Regions from separate parts of the Homo sapiens genome. Here region 2 is linked to region 1. Evidence: fine-mapped expression QTL. A gene starts in region 1. The other region holds a variant in brackets. All regions are shown on one strand. Distances are between the middles of the regions. Region 1 holds the start of ADSS2 (adenylosuccinate synthase 2). Region 2 overlaps SPMIP3 (sperm microtubule inner protein 3).

Region 1 (8,000 bases):
ATTGTTCTTTTCATTGCTTTCAGCAGGCAATACTGAATGTTGATGTTTCTGTTGCTAAAAGTATTACAATAGTCACCAATTTTAATTTATCAATATGTAGCTCATCCACACTAATCTTTGGTGTCAACATCTGACACAGTCCCTGAGAGATAAGATAGCTGGATTCGTATCCAGTTACAGAAAGAAAGCTATTAAGTAAATATCAATTTATTGGTTCATTCTAGATTTGCTCTAGGCAACAGTTTTTCTTAGAGATACTTGTAAACATCCAACAAACCCATCCATTCCCACCAAAGTTAAAGAAACAGAATAATTTTGATCAGACACCACTGAGATGGTCTCATACACGTTTAAAAACTCATGCCTCAAAAGTAGAGCTGACAGGATACTATATTTACTAACTGCAATAGGACATCCTCATTGACCGAACATTGAGATTTACTGTCCTCAGCGGGGAATAACTAGTTACTAGAACCCCACATGGTATTCAGTCGAAATATGTTGAGGAGATACATGAAAAAGATATAAATATCAGTTACCTATTTTCTCCTAAAAACAAGAGATAAGATTTTAATATAAACAAAGACTTTGAATGGTACAATGTAAAAAATTCCAGCTGAAAAACTAAATAACAAATGTTAATCCAAGGAATGCTAGGAATTCCGCCTTAAATGTATGCCACCAGTCAATTAAATTGTCCAGAGAGATGTTAAAACAATTACAAGAAAGGGTTACTATTATTTATTTCAAATAAATTTCCAGGGGTGATCTTGCCACCCAGAATACATTGGTTGAGTATTTCCCTTCTGCTTCATATAGTATTAGGTGCTACAGAATAAGAAAAGGAAGAAGTCTCCCTTTTGAGAAAATTTACATTATAGTAGAGAAAGCACAGTAACCAAACAGAACAAGATTTAACCAAGTATAGTATAACAGACATTGGTAAATACTTATATACTAGGGAAATGCTATAAATGATATAAAAAGAATCAGAAAAATGGAAATAGCAATTGTTATAAACCTGGAAGAATGGCTTACCTTAAATGCTAATTACCTACTATCCTTAAAATTATGGGAAGTAGTCTGGCAGATCATTTTAGCTGTACAAGGTCAAGGCATTAAATAATACTAACGTTATTTTCTTTTAAATTATCTTTCACCTTTTCTATTTCAAGGAGAAAGTTTTAGTTTGCTGCTGATATGTCTTTTATGCTTCTTTAACACTAATAGTGGTTTCAGATCTTCAGCAGATACTTGTATCTAGCTAGAAAATAGTAATATTTTTTCAGTATGTTTATTTTTATAGCAAGCTTTTATAAACATATATCAAGTGATGGGGTGTGCTTTCCCTTATGACTAACTTTAGTATTTTCTCTTTTTATTGACTTTGAAGCCTTGGAGAGAATACACACGGAACACTGCTCTAGCCTTTCCCGATCACAGGCAACTTCATGTGTGTCATTATAACCAAGACCACCGAAGTTACTTTCCTCAAGAACAATAAATAAGTAAGCCTTTGCTTAAAGCCTGGTATAAACTACTATAGTTAAGAAGTTTCTGTAGCTTCTACTCAGCAAAATACAGAAAACAAAGCACAGTATTTTACTTTGAGAGAACTGGGGAAAAAACAGTATTAGGCTTCCTTTTGTGATGCCAGAAAGGGACTTTCTTGGTCCCATACTTTAACCTCTTGAGAAACGTATTAGACTAGTACCTTTCTCCATCCCGACCTTCTCAACACTTTTGCTTACACAGCAGTTGTCCCCCAGATTGTGAGCTCCTTGTGGGCACAATCCCTGCCTTTTTCAGATTTTTGACTCCCAGGCTAAGTGATCCCCTGCAGATACTCAATGTTTACTAGATGAATGACCTGTACCCAGGGTTGGGCCTCTATTTAATTCTTCTCTCTTCTTCTTAAAATAAATATTGATTTAAAATTAAGGCAGCAGTAGTGGTTGTCCTTTGATGCAAGTCCTACATATTTATGGATCTGGGGAACCTACCAAGTTATAAATAACTCCCCATAAATCCTGAATCTGAACAACACAGGCCTTAAGCGCTGTTAAGAGTGAAAACGCCACTAGGTTTGCATCTATTGTTTCCAAAAAGGCATTTTATACATTAAAATTTATCATTAAATGCAATGCCAGTTTTTCTTTTTAAAACTATATTTTATGTTGGGAGAAAGTCCTTATGAGTCTACTGGTGAAATACGGATACATTATGTGTACATCACTTCTGGAGAAACAGTACTGAATAAAATTTGAACTCATGACATAAATATGGCAGAATATATTAAACTCTAACAAAGGACATATTTTCACTAACACACAAAACTTAAGACATCAAACAAGGCAATCCAAGCTCACAATGTCTTACTGTTGATTTTTTCCAGCTCTCTATACACACTCACTAAGAACTTCAACATTCCAATTTTATAACCTAGGGGAACTTCATTAAGTAGATGCCAGCTTACTAGGGCTAACCAAATAATACAAAGTTACCAAGGTAAATCACAAAAGAGATAATGCTTAAATCTATTCATTACTCATCTATTTTTTGCTAACAAGACTAATAAAGAATCCTAATGATACACTTTTAAAAAGCACTAAAAGAACATAAGGATTCTATAAGGAAGGTAGTTAAGTCAAAAATACACAGGTGAGGGAAGTCTGCCCAACAAGGCCCCTCATTTGTTTCTCCACTATCTTCAGCTAACATTTTAAAGCCAAACTTAGTTCCTTCTCAATCACTTCTCTAGCCTTTCCAAGGGCATCAGATCAGGTTGGTCCATGACTTCAAGACTACTTTCTCGGTAACATTAGTAACACCTTCTCCAAGCTACAAACTACTTCTAATATTTCTCCATAGAATATTAAAATTGAGGATCCTTTAGAATAAATACCATAATGGTTGTGTTCTCCAAACCTTCTTACAACCCATAGTGTAGCTCAACCTGAGCTATTTCCATATTAACGAGATGTCAAGATGTCAGTGAAGGAGACACACAGGCCTCAGCCTCTCTCCCGCTGTCGACAGCAAGAAAGCTCGGTATTCGGATACGTCTTCCCCACAGCATGACCAGATCTGAATGTAAGACAAAAGGTAGGTAAAGGCTGGATTTCTGGAGTATTTCCTAAGAAAGTGCGGGGCAGGAATTTAATGGCAACACCCTGAAGATTGCTAAGGTACAAAGTGTGTTGCCAGAGGGGTGGAGAAATAATAGGCTGGAAGGGAAGGAGGGAGAGGTGGTAGTGACAGTTTCCTAAGAGGCAATTAGTGCAACAGCTATTTCAGAATGGGCAGGGTGGATTTCTAAATGAAAACAAAACAAAACGAAACAAGGTAAATCAGAGAATATTTGCAGTATTTGCATTTAGCTTTTTAACATACCTGTGATTTCATTGTTTCTGCATGCTCAAAATGGTATTCAAGGGGGCCTATAACTTACTAGAACATATACAGCATGGCACCATCATATCATGCCATGCATGTTCAAAAACAAATATTCTTGCAACCTAAACAGATAGCAGTTAACTTCAAATATTACATTATGCTTTGTTTTGAAAGTGGTTATTGCTCATCTGCTTAGAATTTTGAAACTGGAGAGAGTTATCTGAGAGCCTTTACAAAGGCCTTACCCTGTATGCTGCGTCAAAGGAAACGACAAATAGGAAGAAAGGTTACACTGAAAACCACGTGTCTCCCGTTAGAAGTACATTACCACCTCGTTTTCCGAAAGTTCACTTTCGATGTCACCTTAACAATGCAAATATTTATTTCCAAATACTCAATTTGACATCCATGTATTTACTTCCCTCACTTTTTTTGAACAGAGAAGGGATTCCTTCCTCTGGGACCAACTAGTAAAAGTAATTTCTCCTTAACTTTCATGTATGGAGCACACTGTAAAAACAAAAACAAAAACAAGAAACTCAGGGCCCTAAAACAACAGTCCAAAGCCCAGAGGTGGGTGGGTTTGGATGTCAACAAAGTGGACCAGAGGAAGCAAAGCACTGCATGCCACGGTCCTGCAGATGGGGGATCGGTGAGTCTGATTTCAGGACGTTTCGAAACAATCCACTCCCACTCCGCCGCCCTGGGCGGGGCGGGGGGGCGGTGATGGGGGGTTCTGCCGTCGCGCCGGGTCTCCGCCCGCAGTCGGAAGAGTTGGGAGCAGGCCTCGGGCGGTAGCTCCTCAAACTCGGACCGCATCCCACCTCCACCCCGGCCTCAGTCCCGGCGCTGAGCACCACTCGCCAGACGCAAAACTGCAACTGCCAGGCATCGCGCATCTCTCAAAGGCTCCCCGCCAGCCCACCTCTTCCTCCAGGGCCACCCCAAGTTTCACCCGACGCTCCAGGTCAGGGGTCCCCGACCTCCCGCCATTTCTCCACGTAGCCGCAGCTCAGGACAGGAGGAGAGAGCCTCAAGGTGACACCTCATTTTGGCCAGTGGATCCGGGTTCTGGGTCCGAGTTCCCGGGCACCAGGAGCCAGGCAGCCCGAGCTCCCGGGCCCGGCTTCCCATGAGAGGCCCCGTCGCCTCACCTGGCAGCGGCACACGATGTCGGCGTCCTGCGCCAGCAGGTCCACCACCTTCCCTTTGCCTTCGTCGCCCCACTGCGCACCGAGCACCACCGTCACCCGGTTTCCTCCGGGCCGCGCCCTGGGGCGGCCGCAATCGCCGTTGGGCAGGGAGGATGCCGCCGGGTAGGTCTCGGCGAACGCCATGGCTCCAGTGACGCGAGGAGAGCCCGAAGGAGAGGCGGCCGGCGAGGAGTGAGCGAACTGAACTGCTCTGCGGCCGCCAGCCACATGCAGAGGAAGAAGGAGCCAGAGGCCGGCCCCGCCCCCGCCCCGCCGGGCCGCCACCCTCCAGCCAGTCCCCGCCCCGCTCTCCGCCACAGCCCGCTCAAGGGGGTACCATGACTGCCCCGCGCAGGCCGGCCTCGGCAGCACCGCCCGCAGGAAGAGGCCCTGGTGGCGGCAACGGCCGCCACCCCGGACCGAGGCCACGCCCCTTCCGCGGCCTGGCGCGCCACTCCCGTGCAAACCTCGCGAGCGGAAAAGGTCAGGGGCGGGGCTTCGAGAGCGCTTCTCCTTCAGCACCCCGCCTACCCGCTCTACCTCTCGCTTTCAAACTGGAGAGGCGCGGAAGCGCGTGTGGAGCGTCGGACTACAAATCCCAGCATGCAACGCTCTGGGCTGCGGCGGTGTATTCTGGGGCCACTGTGTCTGCCATCTGCAGGTTTGTCTGGATTTGTCTTTATTAAGGAATGAATGTGTACAAAATACAAACTGTGGAATTTCGCAGTACAAACAGCATAAAATCGGAACGTGTAAGTGTAGAATTGGAAATTAAAAGTCCGGAAGTAACAGAGATGGGGACAGGGATCAAAAAAGACAAAATTCAAAAGTAAGGCAATAAGATAAAGGACATGAGACCTGAAATCAATAGATCAAATAAAGTCCTAATCCTCATTTTACATAGTAGTAACAAAGGCTCAGAGAGGAGGAGTGGATTACCTATGTCGCATATAGTACATATATGCAGATACCGTCATGCACTTCTTTATTTTTTAATCCCCACAACCATATAAGGTAGGTGATCCTCTATTATCCTTATTTTACAGGATTTAAAAGCTGGGTAACTTGCCCTAGTGAGGCTTGAATTGGTACTTCGATAATCTAAGTCCAGAGCCCATGTCCTTCCTGTAGATTCCACTGTCTCTCAGTTACATTTGTAACTAGATTCTGGTGTATACCTACTGTTCATCTAATGCCCTTTCGACACCAACACAAATTAACTATGATGTTTAATTCTGATAAAAGGTGCTTCGAAAAAAAGTGGGAATGGAATCACATTATATGTACCGTCTCCCAAATCGCCTGTACATACTGTATGTTCACTAATGGTCCCTAGAGTACACTTTAGTATTTTATTTCTAGTCAATGAGTTAAGTCAGGAACATTGAGAACCTGCTATTAACTAACTAAGTGTCCTGGGCACTGATAACATAGGAGAAATAAAGATACAATTCAGCCCTCAAGGATTCAAATTATTTGGTCTATTGATTAGTAAACAATTATAATACTATGTGATAATTGTTGTCTATCTTGGCCTTATTACAAGATCACAAACATTTTGGAAACAAGAATGCCATCTATTTCTTTCTAGTCAAATGCCCGAGGTAGTGTTGGGCAGATAGTAGATACTGAATAAGCACACCTTACTAGTCATTTCCATTCAATTTTTTAAAATCATTTATGGGAGACTGATTTGAGTAATAATAAAACTCTGGTTTCCTGCACAGCCAGCTCTACATGAATTACTCTTTCTCTATTGCCATTTGCCTGTCTTGATGAATTGGCTCTGTCTAGGCAGTGGACAAGGTGAACCCCTTGGGCGGTTACAAATTTGGGGGCTTGTCTGGCATTGCCTTTGTGGCTACCTACTCGTGGTTCAGTGGCCCCCCTCCAGCAATGGATCCAGAAGCCTGCCCAAGCGGCCACCCAGTTCTCTTGGACTGGGGGCTGACTCTGGTACTCTCTCTACTGGTGGGGTGCTGCCAACCCAGTGTGCATGGATTTAATTGCAATGGAGAAATAGCCCCGGGGAGACGTCCCTTAACTGTAACCCTATCACAGGGTGTCTGTCTGTAGCCCCATTGCAGGGCAGGGTGTCTGGATTGGTGAGTATCCTAGGTGCTGCCAACGCCTCCTTTCTCCCAACTGGTTCTGTAGCCCTATGGTGAGGTGTCTGTAGCCCCATTGCAGGGTGTCTGTTCGGCTCCTGGGGGGGTCTCATTTGGCTCTTTCTAACTAGTAGGAAGAGTCCAGGTTTGGGAGACTTCTCCTGAATCAGGAAGATTTCAAGGAGGTTTCTCAGAAGGAGAATAGGAGGATAGTTTGGAAGGGATACTCCCGGAGTTCTTGGTTAGGGATCTGATTGGGAACGCCTTCTGTCCTCTCGTCTTTGTGTGCGTTTGTATATGTGGAAGGGATCTCAGAAGAGGTTGCTGATGGAAGTCCAGCAGACCTAACTCAAAACCCTCCTTATTTGTCTGGTCACATTTGATGAGCCCTACAGAAGGCTCAACAGGCCTGTCTCGGGGTGACTATCTGCTCTTCGTCTTGCCCAGAGACCCCATTGTGAATTACCGTTCGGAGGTCATCCCTCCCCACCTGGAGTGGATCAAAGACAACAGGGACCAAAGAGAAAAAGTTTTTGAGCTTTGCCAGGCTGATATTGGGAGCTGAACGAGGTGGCTAATGTGTGTTTTGTTATGTGTGTTTTGCTGGGATGGAAAATGTTAATTCGGTTCCCCATGCAGCCCGCTGGGCAGCATCTTGCAAATTAAGAATCTCGTCTATGTTTCCATAAAACAGTAAAGGGTGATTTTCTCTTGTAAAGTGGCTTGAACCCCACAGCTATAGCACAAGCAAGCAGGGTCATCAAAAGCCACTCCATTCTTCTGGAAACTGCAGAGAAAGGGAACCCGGAAATCTGGTATGCCGGCACAGAGGGTATGAAATTCTTACCGGACCGGTTTGTGGTCTCTCTCTCTCTTTCTCAGTAAATAGTAAACTGTTTACCTCCTCTGCAAGGGTTTGATAAATGGAAAAAAGGATTTGTGAGACTAGTCTTAGGCTGTAGCAAATCTGGTGTAGTTTTGTGCTAAGAATTTGTCTTTCTGTGTTCTGTAGTGGATAGATGGGTGTCACAGGATAGAACGTGGGTTTAGGACCCCTATAAGCCTGCTTTTCAAGCCGGCTTGGCAGGCTGGTCAGTTACAAACTTTGCTACAGGTCCCTGAAGCCAATACTGTATGAAATTTCTCTGTCTTGTTTTGTGTCCTGAAGAGCTTAACTTTGTGACCATGTGGAGATACTTTCTCTTGGTTTCCACCATCTAGAAGACAGGAATTTGGGGATTTTTAGGTTAGCCCTAAGAATTTTCTTGAGCAGTTAAAAGCCTTTGCAAGCTTGAAACTGGCT
Region 2 (15,759 bases), 84 kb before region 1:
AGACAGCACTTTTGTTTGCTTTGGAAGAATTTTACTTGGGGCATGTCTAAGCGAGAATCTTCTATTAAGGCAACTAAAAAATTAAATGTTTTCAGGGAGATGAAAGTTATGTTGTTCCTGGTGCTGAGAACAACAGTTGTACAGCACTGGCTGTGACCATGAAAGTGATGGTAAGTTTACCATATGTTCATACTTGAGTTACCACGTTCAGATTTGGTATGGGGCTATATTTTTTAAGATTGACTAAAATAAAATGTACTGATATATCTTATTGCAAACTACACTTCCTTATGTGTCCAAGAGATTATGATTAATGGCAAAAAAAAAAAAAAAAAGTGATTTGGTATCCCTCACATAAGGTAGAGGAAATTCTCTAAAGATCGGTAACCACTCCCAGACAAGGTCCTCTGATTATTGTAGGAGCATAGACTTGGACTCAAACACCATTGCTAATGCATTTCTCTAAAAATGCTTGCATCGCGTGGCAACCAGAGGCAACCCACAGAATGGGAGAAAATATTTGCAAACTACCCATCTGACAAGGGATTAATAACCAGAATATATAAAAAGCTTAAACAATCAATAGGGAAAAGAAAATCTGATTTTAAAATAGGCCAAAGGGCCAGGAGCAGTGGCTCATGCTTGTAATCCCACTTTGGGAGGCAGAGGTGGGCAGATCACCTGAGGGCAAAAGTTCGAGACCAGCCTAGCCAACATGATGAAACCCCGCCTCTACTAAAAATACAAAAAATTAGCTGGGTGTGGTGGCGGGCGCCTGTAATCCCAACTACTCGGGAGGCTGAGGCAGGAGAATCACTTAAACACAGGAGGCGGAGGCTACAGTGAGCCGAGATCACGACATTGCACTCCAGCCTGGGCAATGAGAGCAAAACTCCACCTCAAAAAAATTAATTAATTAATTAAAATAAGCAAAAAATCTGAATAGACATTTCTCAAAAGAAGACACATAAATGGCTAACAGGTGTATAAAAAAAAAGTTCAACATGGCCCGGGGCGGTGGCTCACGCCTGTAATCCCAGCACTTTGGGAGGCCGAGGCTGGCGGATCACAAGGTGAAGAGATTGAGACCATCCTGGCCAACATGGCAAAACCTGTCTCTACTAAAAATACAAAAAATTAGCTGGGCGTGGTGGTGCGTGCCTGTAGTCCCAGCTACTCGGGAGGCTGAGGCAGGAGAATCACTGGAACCCGGGAGGCGGAGGTTGCAGTGAGCCAACATCGCACCACTGCACTCCAGCCTGGCAACAGAGCGAGACGCCATCTAAAAAAAAAAAGTTCAACATTACTAATCATCAGAAAAATGCAAATGAATCCTGCAATGGGATATCATCTCACCTCAGTTCAAATGTCTTTTATCCAAAAGCCAGGCAATGATGAATGCTACTGAGGATGTGGAGAAAGGGGAACCTTCATACGCTGTTGGTAGGAATGTAAATTAGTACAGCCACTATGGAGAACAGTATGAAGGTTCCTCAAAAAACTAAAAATAGAACTACCATATGATCCAGCAGTCTCACTGCTGGGTATATATCGAAGAGAAAGGAAATTGTTATATCAAAGAGATATCTGCAGTCCTGTGTTTATTGCAGCACTATTCACAATAGCCAAGCTATGGAATCAACCCAAGTGTCTATCAATGGATGAATGGATAAAGAAAACGTGATATACACACACACACACACACACACACACACACACACACACACACACACACATGCATGCATGGAATATTATTCAGCCATAAAAAAGCATGAAATCGGTCGGGCAGAGTGACTCATGCCAGTAATCCCAGCACTTTGGAAGGCTGAGGCGGGAGGATCACCTGAGGTCAGGAGTTCCAAGACCAGCCTGGTCAACATGGTGAAACCCCATCTCTACAAAAATACAAAAATTAGCTGGGCATGATGGCAGGTGCCTGTAGTCCCAGCTACTCAGGAGGCTAAGGCAGGAGAATTGCTTCACCCTGGGAGGCGGAGATTGCAGTGAGCTGAGATTGCGCCATTGCACTCCAGCCTGGGTGACAGAGTGAGACTCCGTCTCAAAAAAAAAAAAAGCATTAAATCCTGTCATTTACAACAACATGAAGGGAACTGGAGGACATTATATCAAGTAAAATAAGCCAGGCACAGAAAGACAAATATTGCTTGTTCTCACTAATATGTGGGAGCTTGAAAAAAAATTGAACTTGTCGAAGAAAAGGAATTGAACTTGCGGAGACGGAGAGTAGAATGATGGTTAGCAGAGGCTGGGAAGGGGAGTGGGGAAGAGGGAATAAACGGTGGATGGTTAATGGAACAAAAATACAGTTAGAAGAAAAAAGATCAGTGTTTGGTAGCACAATGGGTGACTATTGTCTATAATTTATCGTACATTTCTTTTTTTTCTTTCTTTCTTTTTTTTTTTTGAGATGGAGTCTTCCTCTGTTGCCCAGGCTGGAGTGCTGTGGCTCGATCTCGGCTCACTGCAACCTCTGCCTCCTGGGTTCAAGGATTCTCCTGCCTCAGCCTCCCAAGCAGCTGGGATTACAGGCATGCGCCACCATGCCTAGTTAATTGTTGTATTTTTAGTAAAGACGGGGTTTCATCATGTTGGCCAGGCTGGTCTCAAACTCCAGACCTCAAGTCATCTGCCCACCTCGGCCTCTCAAAGTGCTGGGATTACAGGCGTGAGCCACCGCGCCCGGCCTGTTCTACATTTCAAAATAACTTAAAAAGTGGAATTAGAATGTTCCTAACACAAAGAAATGATAAATTCTTGAGGTGATGGACACCCGCATTACCCTGATTGGATCATTACTCATTGTATGCTTATATAAAAATGGCACATGTACCCCATAAATACATACATCTCTTATATATCTATAATAATTAAAAATAAAAATTTTTGTTAAAAAAGCATGGCAACCCATGACCGATTTATTCCCTTACAAGACTGATTCAGAATTTCTAGGCACTGAGCACTCACTCTGTCTTCAAAGGGATAGTGGGGGCTGTCTTTGTTAGGAGCTCAAAAGCCCTGAATACCTGGCATTCTTCTGTCCAGCCTGTCACTTCCACTGAAGTAAACTCCAGTCACGAAGCTTTCGGAGTTCGGGTTAGCAGATTAACCAAGAGCTCAGCTGTGTTTACTCAGATTTTCTCTCTCATTGTTTCTTCCTTCTTTCTCTTTCTCTCTCTCTCTCTTTTTTAAATAATCACAGCAGTAAAAGTACATTATATAATGATTAGGCTCTGTTGGATAGCCAACTATTCCATTATAGTGTAATGCTGTTTAAAATCTTCAAGTTGCTTTGAAAAACACACTCAGGTGAAATAAAGCAGCTGGCCAGCCGGCAGGCAATGAGTTAACCGTTGTCTATGAAAGGGAAGAGGAGGAGACATCACACACTCTTTTTTTCCAGTCCTTTCTGTCTCCTGGTTACTGAATAGTCCTAGTTTTGTTTTGGCTGATGGTCTGGGTGCCTTGTGATTGTTTTGATAGAGCTAAGAGTTAAAATAAATATTTCTGCAGCCAGAGGGTTCCAGCCCTGGTTCCTTGGTAACCTCATACAAGTTACTTAACTTCTTAGTACCTCAATTTTCTTGGGAGTAAATAGCAGTAAAACTCTGTAGGGTTGCTGGGAGGCTAATAGGAGTTAATACATGTTACCTGGTACATAATCCATGATTGTCAATAGGAACTCACATTTCTCCTTTCTCAAAGATGTTTTCAAGGACACAGAACACTCTCGCACACATCTTTGCCTCATTCAACCCTCCAGAGAGCTATTGTAATCAATGTGGAGAGTGGGAAAATGACCTGCCGCAGGTCACATGGGTCTCAGTCCGATGTTCTCCTGCTACACCACTAGCCATGTTTGTGCAAACCATAGGCCCAGCTGTCTATGCATACATAATAGATATGCAGAGTGCAAAATTCCTAAGGTAAATGGTAAAAAGTATGCCTTTGTCCCCCAGCCACTCAGTTTTCCTTCTCATTGTTTACTCTTTTCCCTGTGAACTTTTTTTTTTTTTTTTTTTTGAGACAGGGTCTCACTGTCACCCAGGCTGGAGTGCAGTGGTGTGATCTTGGCTCACTGCAACCTCCGCTTCCTGGGCTCAAGCGATCCTCCCGCCTCAGCCTCCTGAGTAGCTGGGACCACAGGCATGCACCTCCACACCAGGCTTTTTTTTTTGTTGTTGTATTTTTCATAGAGTTGGGGTCTCACCACTTTATGTGATTATTTAAATGTAGTAGTTTGCTTGTGGCAAGCCATATTCTCCAGTAAATAATCAGATGTGGGCCAGGTACGGTGGCTCATGCCTGTAATCCCAGCACTTTGAGAGGCCGAGGTGGGTGGATCACCTGAGGTCAGGAGTACAAGACCAGCCTGGCCAACATGGTGTGAAACCCCATCTCTACTAAAAACACAAAAATTAGCTGGGCATGGTGGCAGGTGCCTATAATCCCAGCTACTCAGGAGGCTGAGGCAGGAGAACTGTTTGAACCCGGGAGGTGGAGGTGGCAGTGAGCCACGATTGTGCCACTGCACTCCAACCTAGGCGACAGAGTGAGGCCCTGTGAAAAACAAACAAACAATCAGATGTGATATGAAATTTTAGACTAGAAACAACCTATATGTTTAGTCTAGGGTCAGTGGGGAACAGAAAGGGGGCTAACATAGAGAATGAATGGCTTACAAAAAATCCTCAGAAGGGCTGGAAGAACAGGCTCTGGGTGGGGCCCCCAGGAGGCATCTAGAACATCTCCACAAAACTGACCCATCACTGGTAAAGCTATGTCAGTCCAGATCAGGAAGCTGCTTCCAGGAGTATTGAGTTCAAGAACCTACTCCCAACGCCACTGTCTCTGCCACCTAGGAAGCTGGAATTTGAACCCTGGGACACAGACTTCAGCCACTGCCTTCGCAACAATTGCTTCTTGAATGCCCCAAAGCTGGAGATGAGACGCTGGAAAAGTGCCATATGCTCCACAACCTTGCTTGCCAGTAGAGAAGATCAAGGCAGCAGCCTCTGCCTAATGTCCACCTTCCAAATCTCAAGCAAGTACAGCCGATGCAAGGGCGCTCACTCCTAGCCGGGATTCTTGTTGTGAGGCACTCTGGGAAATGTCGTGCTTAGCTTGCAAGCTTGTGAGGTAGGAAGGCCCACTAAGAAATGAGACAGGATCTTGGGTCACAACTGATCAGAACAAAACCAAAAAAACAATGAAGTGAGACAGGAGACTATGCCCAGCTAACATTAGCACAGTACCTTTGCTTTTGCTTTTTCTTTTTTTTTTTGACGGAGTCTCACTCTATGGCCCTGGCTGGAGCGCAGTGGCACGATCCTGGCTCACTGCAAGCTCCGCCTCCCGGGTTCACACCATTCTCCTGGCTCAGCCTCCCAAACAGCTGGTACTACAGGCGCCCGCCACCAGGCCCGGCTACTTTTTTTGTATTTTTAGTAAAGACGGGGTTTCACCGTGTTAGCCAGGATGGTCTCGATCTCCTGACCTCGTGATCCTCCCACCTCAGCCTCCCAAAGTGCTGGGATTACAGGCGTGAGCCACCACACCCGGCCTGCTTTTTATTTTCTTATTGATTTATACTTATTTAATTTTTTTTTACTTTTGGTTTTTAAAGAAAAGCACATCTGTGTGTATTTGCCTTATGCTTGCCATTTCTTTTTGCTCCTTTCTAATCTTGTATTTCCTTCCCTAAATAGCCTATATGCATAGTCCTTCTACCATGTCAAATATTTTTACTGATTTCTTTCAAGATGGACTTTGTGGTACTAGATATCTCACCCATGGAATTATGTATAAACTGGCAATATAATCCTTTATGCCATAATTTTTTTTCAGATTCCCATCCATCATGACTGCCATCCGACTACGAGAATTTATTGAGCGTCGCCCAGTGATCCCGCCAAGGTATAGTTCTTCCAGATGCACAGCCTCCGGGACTGAAGCCAGGCAGCCAGGTGCCTGGGGAGTTAGAATTGCACATCCTGCTGCTCAGTGGTCCAGAGACTACTGCCAGGGAGTTCTAGGGAAGCTCTTTGGATATTTCCTGATGAGCAGGTCTGTGCAAACCTACCGGCAAAAGTCAGAGGAAGCTGAGACGCCGAAGAAAGAGGCTGACAAATCCAGTTTCTTACAAAGAAATATTTAACAGGGACTTACGAACAGAAGCCATATATGTGTCTCGGGTAGCAGTGAGATGAGATGGTGGATGTCTGCGCCATTACCCCTGAGACCCAGGATTTAGATACCATAGGGGAAGAGTGATACAGAAGGGATATATGGGACAATTGAAGTACGATAACACCAATGTTGTTTGGCCGAAGGGCAGAACTTACAGTAAGTACCTGCTCTGACACCAGGAACTATAGAGAAACTGGAAATCTTAGAGGCCTGGGGTGATATGATTTGGTTGTGTCTCCACTCAAATCTCATCTTGAATTGTAGCTCCCATAATTCCTACGTGTCGTGGGAGGGACCTGGTGGGAGGTAACTGAACCATGGGGTGGGGTTTTCCCATGCTGTTCTCCTGACAGTGAATAAGTCTCACGAGATCTGATGGTTTTATAAGTGGGAGTTCCCCTGAACAAACTCTCTTGCCTGCCGCCATGGAAGACATGCCTTTCCTCCTCCTTTGCCTTCTGCCATGATTGTGAGGCCTCCCCAGCCGTGTGGAACTGTGAGTCCATTAAACCTCTTTTTCTTTATAAAATACCCAGTCTCGGGTATTTCTTCATAGCAGTATGAAAATGGGCTAATACAAGGGGTTAATCAGAAGCCAACATGGTGAATTAGCATCCAACATAGAGTTGCTCTAGCCTCCACATTGGGTTTAGGGAAAGTTGTAAGAAAAAGAAGCCTCACACTCACTGCAGAATCCAAGCAAACAGGCAACTCCAAATTCCCAAAAGACCAGAAGGATATTGGTTTTTGCTTGGGAAGAGCTTTAGTGAGAAGTCTGAGCAATCCAAGCCCACATTTTGGATTGGACCATTTTACTCTGCTTGTGGGAAAACAAACTGCTCCTGTGCTTCCTCTGATGAGAGCTGACGGCACAGATGGAAACTAAGGAGCTGTTTCGCTCTTTCTTCAAGGTCCTCTATGGCACAAGAATAACAAGCCCTAGATCTGTCTTGTTGTGCTAAATTTGGTATCAGATGACAGTCCGTAAATCCTAACCCCACTCCCCCTTCACCACCTCGACGGGTCTGCAGCAGTGTAGTAGCTATAAATTTGTGACAGCAACCTCACACCATGACATGGGGGTCAGCCTCCTGTAGCCCCGTTGGCTTTGTGGCTTTGAGCAAGCCTCGTGTTTAGTTTATTTTATTTTTATTTATTTATTAGAGACAAAGTCTGGCTCTGTTGCCCAGGCTGGAGTGAAGTGGCTGGATCATAGCTCAGTCCAACTTCAAACTCCTGGGCTCAACTGATCTTCCTGCTGCCTTAGTCTCCTGAGTAGCTAGGGCTACAAGCTGCCTGGCTAATTTTTAAATTTTTTGTAGAGACCAGGTCTCACTATGTTGCCCAGACTGTCTGGAACTCCTGGCCTCAAGCAGTCCTCCCACTTGGTATCACAAAGTGTGGGATTATGGGTGTGAGCCACAACACCCAGCCTCATGTTTATTTTAATATTGAGTTATTTTAGCCATGTTTGGTCAACAAAAGAGAAGTCCTTCTTCCAGAAACTACAGAAGGAGTGAATGGATGGATGTGTCCTTCCTGGCTACATCTTAAGAATTTTCTTTTAAGACCTGATGCAGTGGCTCGTGCCTGTAATCCCAGCACTTTGGGAGGCCAAGGCGGGTGGATCACTTGAGGTCAGGAGTTCGAGACCAGCCTGGCCAACATGGTGAAACCCTGTCTCTACTAAAAATACAAAAATTAGCCAGGCGTGGTGGCACACACCTGGAATCCCAGCTACTCGGGAAGCTGAGGCAGGAGAATCGCTTGAACCCAGGAGGCAGAGGTTGCGATGAGCCGAGATCGCACTACTGCACTCCAGTGTGGGCAACAGAATGAGACTCTGTCTCAAAAAAAAGAAAGAAAGAAAAACTAAACAGATAGAATAATTGGAAGTTGTGATAAAGGAAATGAAAAAGGGTGTGAGGGAGAATAATCAGGTGGAGAGGTAGGCAGAAGGAGAATACCTTCTCTAGCCAGGGTGTTCAGGGAACAGCTCTCTCAGCAGTTGTCAGCCGAGCATGATGCTGGGTGATAGGGGCAGGGGGTGGGAGAAGGGTGCGGTCTAGGGAGGAGGAAGTGCAGGTCCAAAATCCCTGATTCATGAAAGAAGCCATGACATGATGACACAGGGGCTGGAGCTGGGAGAA[G/A]GTTGGGACGGTAGAGGCAGGAGAAGTTCCCGGAGGGCTTTGTGGCCTACAATAGTGAGTCTGGGTTTTATGCTATTATACATGCAATGGGTTGAAGGGTTTTATGCAATGGAGGGCCCTGATCCGATTTACTTTTATGAAGCTCACTCTGAGAACAGATTGTCTGAGGACAAGAGTGGGGGTTATTGCAGAGAGCAGGGGGAGGCAATGGTGAGCTGGACCAAGGGGTGGCCGTGGGCTGGAGAAGCCGTCCCATGGGAGATCCAGCCTGGAGGGGGAATGCACGGACTTGCTGATTGGACCCACAGGTCAGGAGAGGCACACAGAGCTGCCTCACGGTGCGCACTATGGGCGGAGGGTGGGGGCAACAAGACTAGTTCAGGTGCAGGAAGAGCCGGAGCCGTCAGTGTGCCCCCCAACCCACGTGCGGCTCGGAGGACAAGCCCCAGAGAGCAGAAGACAGCCCAGCCTTAGGCCTCCAGGGGCCCCAGGGCCTGCTGTGCTCAGTTCCACCCAAACCCCCGGACTCCCGGCCAGGTCCAGACACCACAGAGCACTAGGCAGGAGTGGCCAATGGAGGTTTGTTTCCATTTTCCCCAGATAAGACCACAGTTAAATAGGCCTCTCAGTGAACAAAACAGATCTCAAACACACACAGAAAGAGCAAACGCTGTGGGGAGACAATCAGGAAATACTGGAGCCAACTCCATTCCTCTCTCCCCTGCTTCCTCCTCATCCGGGTTTCAGGAAGGAAAGGTTTTTGGTTTTTTGTTTTGTTTTGTTTTGTTTTTGTTTTTTTGAGACAAAGTCTTGCGCTGTCACCCAGGCTGGAGTGCAGTGGTATGATCTTGGTTCACTGCAACTTCTGCCTCCTGAGTTCAAGTGATTTTCATGCCTCAGCCTCTCGAGTGCTGGGACTACAGGCGCCCACCACCACACCTGGCTAATTTTTTATTTTTAGTAGAGACAAGGTTTCACCATGTTGGCCAGGCTGGTCTCGAACTCCTGACCTCAAATGATCCACTCAACTTGGCCTCCCAAAGTGCTGGGATTACAGGCTTGAGCCACTGCACCTGGCCTACTTTATCTGTTTCTTTATATCCTGCCTGTCTCACCCCCTGGAATAATAATGGTAAACACTTCTGAAGCTCTTACTCTGTGCCAAGCACTGTTCTAGGTGCATCTGAACTCCTTTAACCTTCACTACTGTGAGTTTCATATGAGGAAACCAAGGCACGGTGTGGTTAAATGACTGCCCCAGATCCCACAGCTACTGACTGGCGGACATGGGACTTAAACTCACGTCTGTGCTTGTGGTCACTGCATTTTGCCACATCTCCAGGTTAGCCCTCCAGGCAGGGCTTACTTCCCTTTCTCTGCAACTCACTATCATGACCTCTGCCTTGCAGATTACCATTCCTGGTAGGCCCTGTAGGCACGGTTGTTGAAAATATTGAAATGAATGAGTGAGCAAAGTTATCCAATCGTTTATGTGTGGTGTGTACCCCTGGTGACTGATGGCACCTGAGCCTGCCCTTGTGTGGTTCTGCACAAGCATGTATCCAATTCATCCTTAAATGGCCAAGCCTCAGAGCTACGCTACAGAAAACTGAGGTTTTGGGACACTAAATAAAAGTAAATATTAAATGGTTCACACTTAGTAGTGGCCACATAAAATTCTTGTATTCATCATCATATTGGCCGGGTGCGGTGGCTGACGCCAGTGATCCCAGCACTATGGCAGGCGAGGCAGGCGGATCATGAGGTCAAAAGATTGAGACCATCCTGGCCAACATGGTAAAACCCCGTCTCTACTAAAAATACAAAAAATTAGCAGGGCGTGATGGCACACACCTGTAGTCCCAGCCTCTCGGGAGGCTGAGGCAGGAGAATTGCTTGAACCTGGGAAGGCAGAGGTGGCAGTGAGCCAAGATTGCACCACTGCACTCCAGCCTGGCGACAGAGCCAGACTCCGTCTCAAAAAAAAAAATCATATTATATGCAACTGTTTACTGGTGCCATCCCCTGGCTACAGGCTGGAGGCCTGTCACTCAGAGAAGGGCTGGGTGTGGCATTGGTTTGTGGAACCCAGGATACTCCTGAAAAGATCACTTTAAGTGGATTAAATTCAGTGTGTTGTAGAAGATCGAAGATACAGAATTTGTGTGTGATTTAAATAGACTTTTAAAACTTTGATCGAAACAGTCTCTGAAGATCCAGAGGCAACTGTGTGGTCAGCCCATCCTGCGTGGGATGATATTGGAGCAGCGTCATTTCTCTGGGGTACAACCCGTGGTTCATTGCCACACGCCAAAGAAATCAAGGACGTGAACACACAAGGAGTGAGGTTAAGAGCGGAGGTTTAATAGGCTAAAGAAAGAGAAAATCTCTCTCTTACAGAGAGAGGGAGTCGCAGTGGGTCTTCTGGTCCCTGGTGAAGTGCAGGTTTTATAACCGAGCTTGAGGAGGTGGTGTCTGATTTACATAGGGCACGAAAGATTGGTTGGACCAGGTGTGCCATTTGCATAACGTGAGAAGAACTGGTTAGGACTAGGTGTGGTGTTTGCATAATGTGGGAAGAACTGGTTAGGACTAGGTGTGCTGTTTGCATGGCACGTGAAGAAGCTGGCCGCCCCACCCTAATCTTTTATTATGTAGATGGGTTCTCTGCCTAGCCGGGTCACGTTCAGTTGCCTGTTTTTGTTTGTACTATACACGTGGTGACAGAGAAAGGGGAAGATGGCGCCTCCATGTTGAACATGCTGGCCCTCAGGTAGCCCTTTTCTATGGGCACAGCTGCCAGCATTCACCCACACAAGTTTCCAGCTTGCTTATTCATGTCTGCAGCATGATTTTACAGGCTACTCTTTGTTAGAAAATAAATGACTTTGGGGCTGCTTTTTGTTAAAAGGGAAATTCCGCCGAGGACTCTGTTGCCCTTTCCATCTGCCTAAATAATTTCCATCTCCTGTATCAATACCAACACCTTGGGAGATGTTAGCCACCAAGTACAAATGTCTCGTTTACTCTCATGCAATCATTAAAGGAGAAGACAGTATCATTCCCATTTTACTGATGAGGAAACTGAGGCTCCCCACTCCCTTGAGGAGATTCTTGTGGAGCCGGCAGAGCCTGGGAGATGAGGGCACAGGTCTGGAGGCTTCCTAGTCCTTCCTTTAGTTCTGTCTTCTGGACTTACTAGCTCATGTCCTTAGCTAAGTTATTTACTTCCCCTGAGCCTCAGTTTCTTATCAGGCGTAGCACTCACCACATCGTCTGTGATTAGATAGTTGCCTAAACGTGGCTTTCCTGACCAGATTATGAACTCTTGAGTGGAAAGACAACATTGTCATCACTGTATCCCTAGTGCCTAGCCCACTGGAGGCACAGCAGAGCTTGCAGTGAGTGCTTTTCGTTGAGTTAAAAGCATCTTCCAGCTAACACTGCTGTGTCTTTATGGCTTTTCCTATTTTTTAGTGTACAATGTCTATTTGCTGTCTGCCCCAAAATGAGAGAATCACAGAGTTTGTATGAAAATAGCACTGAATTCTTATTAAAACAAATCATCACACATACCCTCGGGTGGCAGAATAGCGACATGGAGTTTGGAGAACTGGGTTTGATACACGGCGCTGGCATTTACTTGTTTAAGTGGACTTTACTACTTAAAAAGTCCACTTAACCCTTCTGAGACTTGGGCTATTCTTATAAAGCAGAGAGTTAATCATGTTTACCTTGCAAGGTGACTGTGAGGATTAAGTGAGATCATTTCTGTAAAAATGCTCTGTAGAGGATGAGCCCCAGCAGGGCCGTAACAGAGAAGAGCGTGGTCACAGGAACACAGGCTACCTGGGGCTGTGGGGCCAGGCTCTGGAGGGACCGACACCTCTGGCCTCTCCTATAGATATTGAATTTTGACTGTGGCTAAGCCCAGATCCCACTCCATTTACAGCCACCCTCCCAGGGAACAGGTTTGCTCTCATGTGGACTGAATACATCACCTCAAAAAGCCAAGCCATCAGGGACTCAAAATCACGCACGGTGCCTGCACCTGCCCAGTGAGAAGGAAAGGGCTTTCTACAGCTGGTTAAAACCCGGGTTCAACAGAATCACTCTGAGCAGAGCCCTGAGCTGGGCTGGCCTCCACAGCCAAGTCTGAAGAGTCCGCACGTGCTTTCACAATCATTCACTGAGGCCGGGTAATGCACAGCCTCTGGCCTGGCTAGACATTTCCCCTTAGGAGGTCAAAACTCTCTTCTCCACCCAGCCATCCCTCTCTCCACACCCATCTCCTTACACACACCTTCCCATTTTCTTTTCACTCCTCCCAAAACCTGCCAAGAGACACTGCCAAGGGGCGGTGGCAGGGAGGATTACTTGGTGCTGGTGCTGGGATTCTTTATCCTCAAATCAGCTTTTACTGACTGCTTCTAAGGAGCAGCGCTGAGTTTACTCACCTGTATTCAGCAGGTGTTTGTTTGTATGCACGCCATGGTCAAAACCCAGCCCACCGCCCACAGCCCAGCAACTGTAGAAACCAGCATCCTTTAGGTGGGTTCTTAAACTGTAATGTGGCCCTGGGGTAATATTCCAAGGTGGTGCTTCAGAAAATGGATAGGTGCCTAAGAAAGCTACGTGTCCCACCCCTGTGCATTCAGAAATGTCATTTGTTCCCTTTATTGTGCCAGTTCCTCTCTCTTCTTATGACTTAATACCCCATTGTTATTTACCATCCAGGGCTCAGTCATATTATCCCAGCCACTGGGCAGGCCCAGACAGCCTGTGGTTTTTCTGCAAATCAGAGCTCCCAGAGGTCGTCTTTGCACAGACAGAGACAGAACTCGCCCTGCTCAGTGCTTGCCTTTCATGCTAGACAGTCAGGCCCACTCTAGCCCTCATACACTCCACTCAGAACCTAATTCTGTCCATGTCTTGGCCCCTATAATTCCCTTTGCTTGGAATCTCTTCCCCAACCCCTTTGCTTATCCGAGTCCTAGATCTAGATACTCCTCCCTCTTCTGTGTCCTATGGACCCTTTATTCAGATCACTATTTCAGCATGTGAAGAGCTTTTTGAGGACAAGCGCTGCTTCTTAGTCAGCTTTGTATCTGCAGAGCCTAGCATAGTGCAGGGTGTTTTGTGTGCATTCAATAAATGTTGGTTGAGTCGAACTGAAGGCATAGTTTCAGTTTTCATCCATTATCTAACACATATTTAGTGAGATACGTTATGCAAAATGATGTGCTACTTTCTACTGACTCTGAATTTTTTTTTTTTTTTTTGAGATGGAGTCTCACTCTGTCCCCCAGGCTGGAGTGCAGTGGCACGATCTCAGCTCACTGCAAGCCCCACCTTCCAGGTTCACACCATTCTCCTGCCCCAGCCTCCCAAATAGCTGGGACTACAGGTGCCCGCCACCACACCTGGCTAATTTTTTGTATTTTTAGTAGAGACTGGGTTTCACCGCGTTAGCCAGGATGGTCTCGAACTCCTGACCTTGCGATCCGCCCGCCTTGGCCTCCCAAAGTGCTGGGATTACAGGCGCGAGCCCAGCCTCCTGACTTTGAATTTTTATGGCATCTACTGACTGCTCAGAATCTGTGGGACATCCCGAAAGACCCCACATGTCCAGGCATCACAAACTCAATAAAGTCACCTTCCCAATGATGGCCATTTATTGTGTTCCCTCTCTTGGGGAAAGGCAGGATTCTTTCCAATGCCTGAAGATGCAGCTTTGTCTTGGACACTTCCCTGTCTTTTACCCTCCATCCTATCTCCTAAAATATCCTCAATCAGCCCTATCCTCTCCATCCACATTTCCATCATATCAGAGCTTCGTCATGTCCCACATAAAGCACTACAATCACTTCCTAAGCAGTCTTTCTGCTTTTAGTCACATGGTCTTCAAATTTGTTTTCTGGCTGGGTGCAGCGGCTCGCACCTGCAATCCCAGCACTTCGGGAGGTCAAGGCGGGAGAATCACTTGAGCCCAGGAGTTCCAGACCAGGCTGGGCAACATAATGAGACCCTGTCTTTTAAAAAAAATGGTTTTCCACATTGCCATCAAAAAAGATCTTTCTCTACCATGTCATGAACCTTGTTAAACATCTCACAAAGTAGCCTGGGCAACATAGTGAAACTACAAAAAAAAATTATATATATATATATATGCATGCCAGGCATATGGTACATGCCTGTAGTCCCTCCCAGCTACTTAGGAAGCTGAAACAGGAGGATCTCTGGATCCCAGGAGTTAGAGGCTACAGTGAGCTATGATCACACTGCACTATAGCCTGGGCAACAGTGAGACTCCATCTCTAAAAGCAAACAAAACAAACAACAGCAAACCTCACAAAGATTCCTATCACCTCCATCAGTAGTTCTCAAACTTTCAGACACAATACCCCCTTTTTAATAATAGATATTTTGTAATATCTCTGCTATTCTTCTGAAATAAAATCTGTAAATAATATAAACCAACCACATATAATTTAAAAATATTAGGTTGGTGCAAAAGTAATTGCAGTTTTTGCCATTGAAAGTAAAGTCATAGCAAAAACCGCAATTACTTTTACACCAACCTATCTCATTACAGTCTTATAACTATAATATAAAAGGAAAAGCAATGTACTATAAAATGAGACATATTTCTGGCCGGGTGCAGTGGCTCATGCCTGTAATCCCAGCACTTTGGGAGGCCAAGGTGGGCGGATCACTTGAGGCCAGGAGTTTGAGACCATCCTAGCCACCATGGTGAAACCCATCTCTTCTAAAAATACAAAAATTAGCCCGGTGTGGTGGCAGGCACCTGTAATTCCAGCTACTCGGGAGGCTGAGGCAGGAGAATCACTTGAACTCAGGAGGCGGAGGTTGCAGTGAGCTGAGATTGGGCCACTGCACTCCAGCCTGGGCGACAGAGTGAGACTCCGTCTCAAAATAAATAAATAAATACAATAAAATAAAATGAGATGTATTTTAAAGCATAAAACCTGAGCACCATTGCCCTCCAGCCTGGCCTCCCTCAGCCCCGTTGTATTCCACTTGTACCACCCACCCTTGTCCCACCTCTTCTTACGTTCACCCCACAGAAGTGCTCCCTCCCAGTCCCCACATGTTAGCTCAATGATGCTCCCAAAACTCCTCAAAATCCAGCCTCTAGACAGGGCTCGAGTCCCCCTCCCAGGCTTGCAAGCGCCTTGTGCTTTGACATCACAGTGCTGCTTCACGATTAGTCTTTACAGACTTATTTGTTACAGTTAAAAAAAAGATGAAATTTTGTAAACATCAAAAGTAGAAAAAACCAGTATAATGAGCTCCCATTTACCAATTCCCACATTTCTTTTATTATTTTTATTTTTATGTACTTTTTTCAGACAGAGCCCTCCGTTTACGGATTCCCACA

What was found. PIP is the estimated chance that this variant, and not a neighbour inherited with it, causes the effect. A credible set is the group of variants that fine-mapping cannot tell apart.
Region 2: its variant is the best candidate, but not a certain one, in a credible set for the expression of ADSS2 in monocytes after R848 (Quach 2016, PIP 0.89).

The regions. Positions count from the first base shown.
Region 1 is chr1:244,447,085-244,455,084 of GRCh38, forward strand. It overlaps ADSS2 (adenylosuccinate synthase 2), which reads right to left and starts at 4,825. Exons shown (of 13, transcript NM_001126.5): 1 at 4,551-4,825. The coding sequence starts at 4,733. It also overlaps a transcript of CATSPERE not described here. RefSeq lists silencers at 4,005-4,284, 4,725-5,214.
Region 2 is chr1:244,358,823-244,374,581 of GRCh38, forward strand. SPMIP3 (sperm microtubule inner protein 3) reads left to right here. Exons shown (of 5, transcript NM_001012970.3): 2 at 5,866-5,934. The coding sequence starts at 5,879. Among named protein-coding and RNA genes, the nearest start is that of SPMIP3, 14 kb to the left of the region's middle. RefSeq lists an enhancer at 2,872-3,697. The variant G/A (reference allele first, on the strand shown) is at 8,358.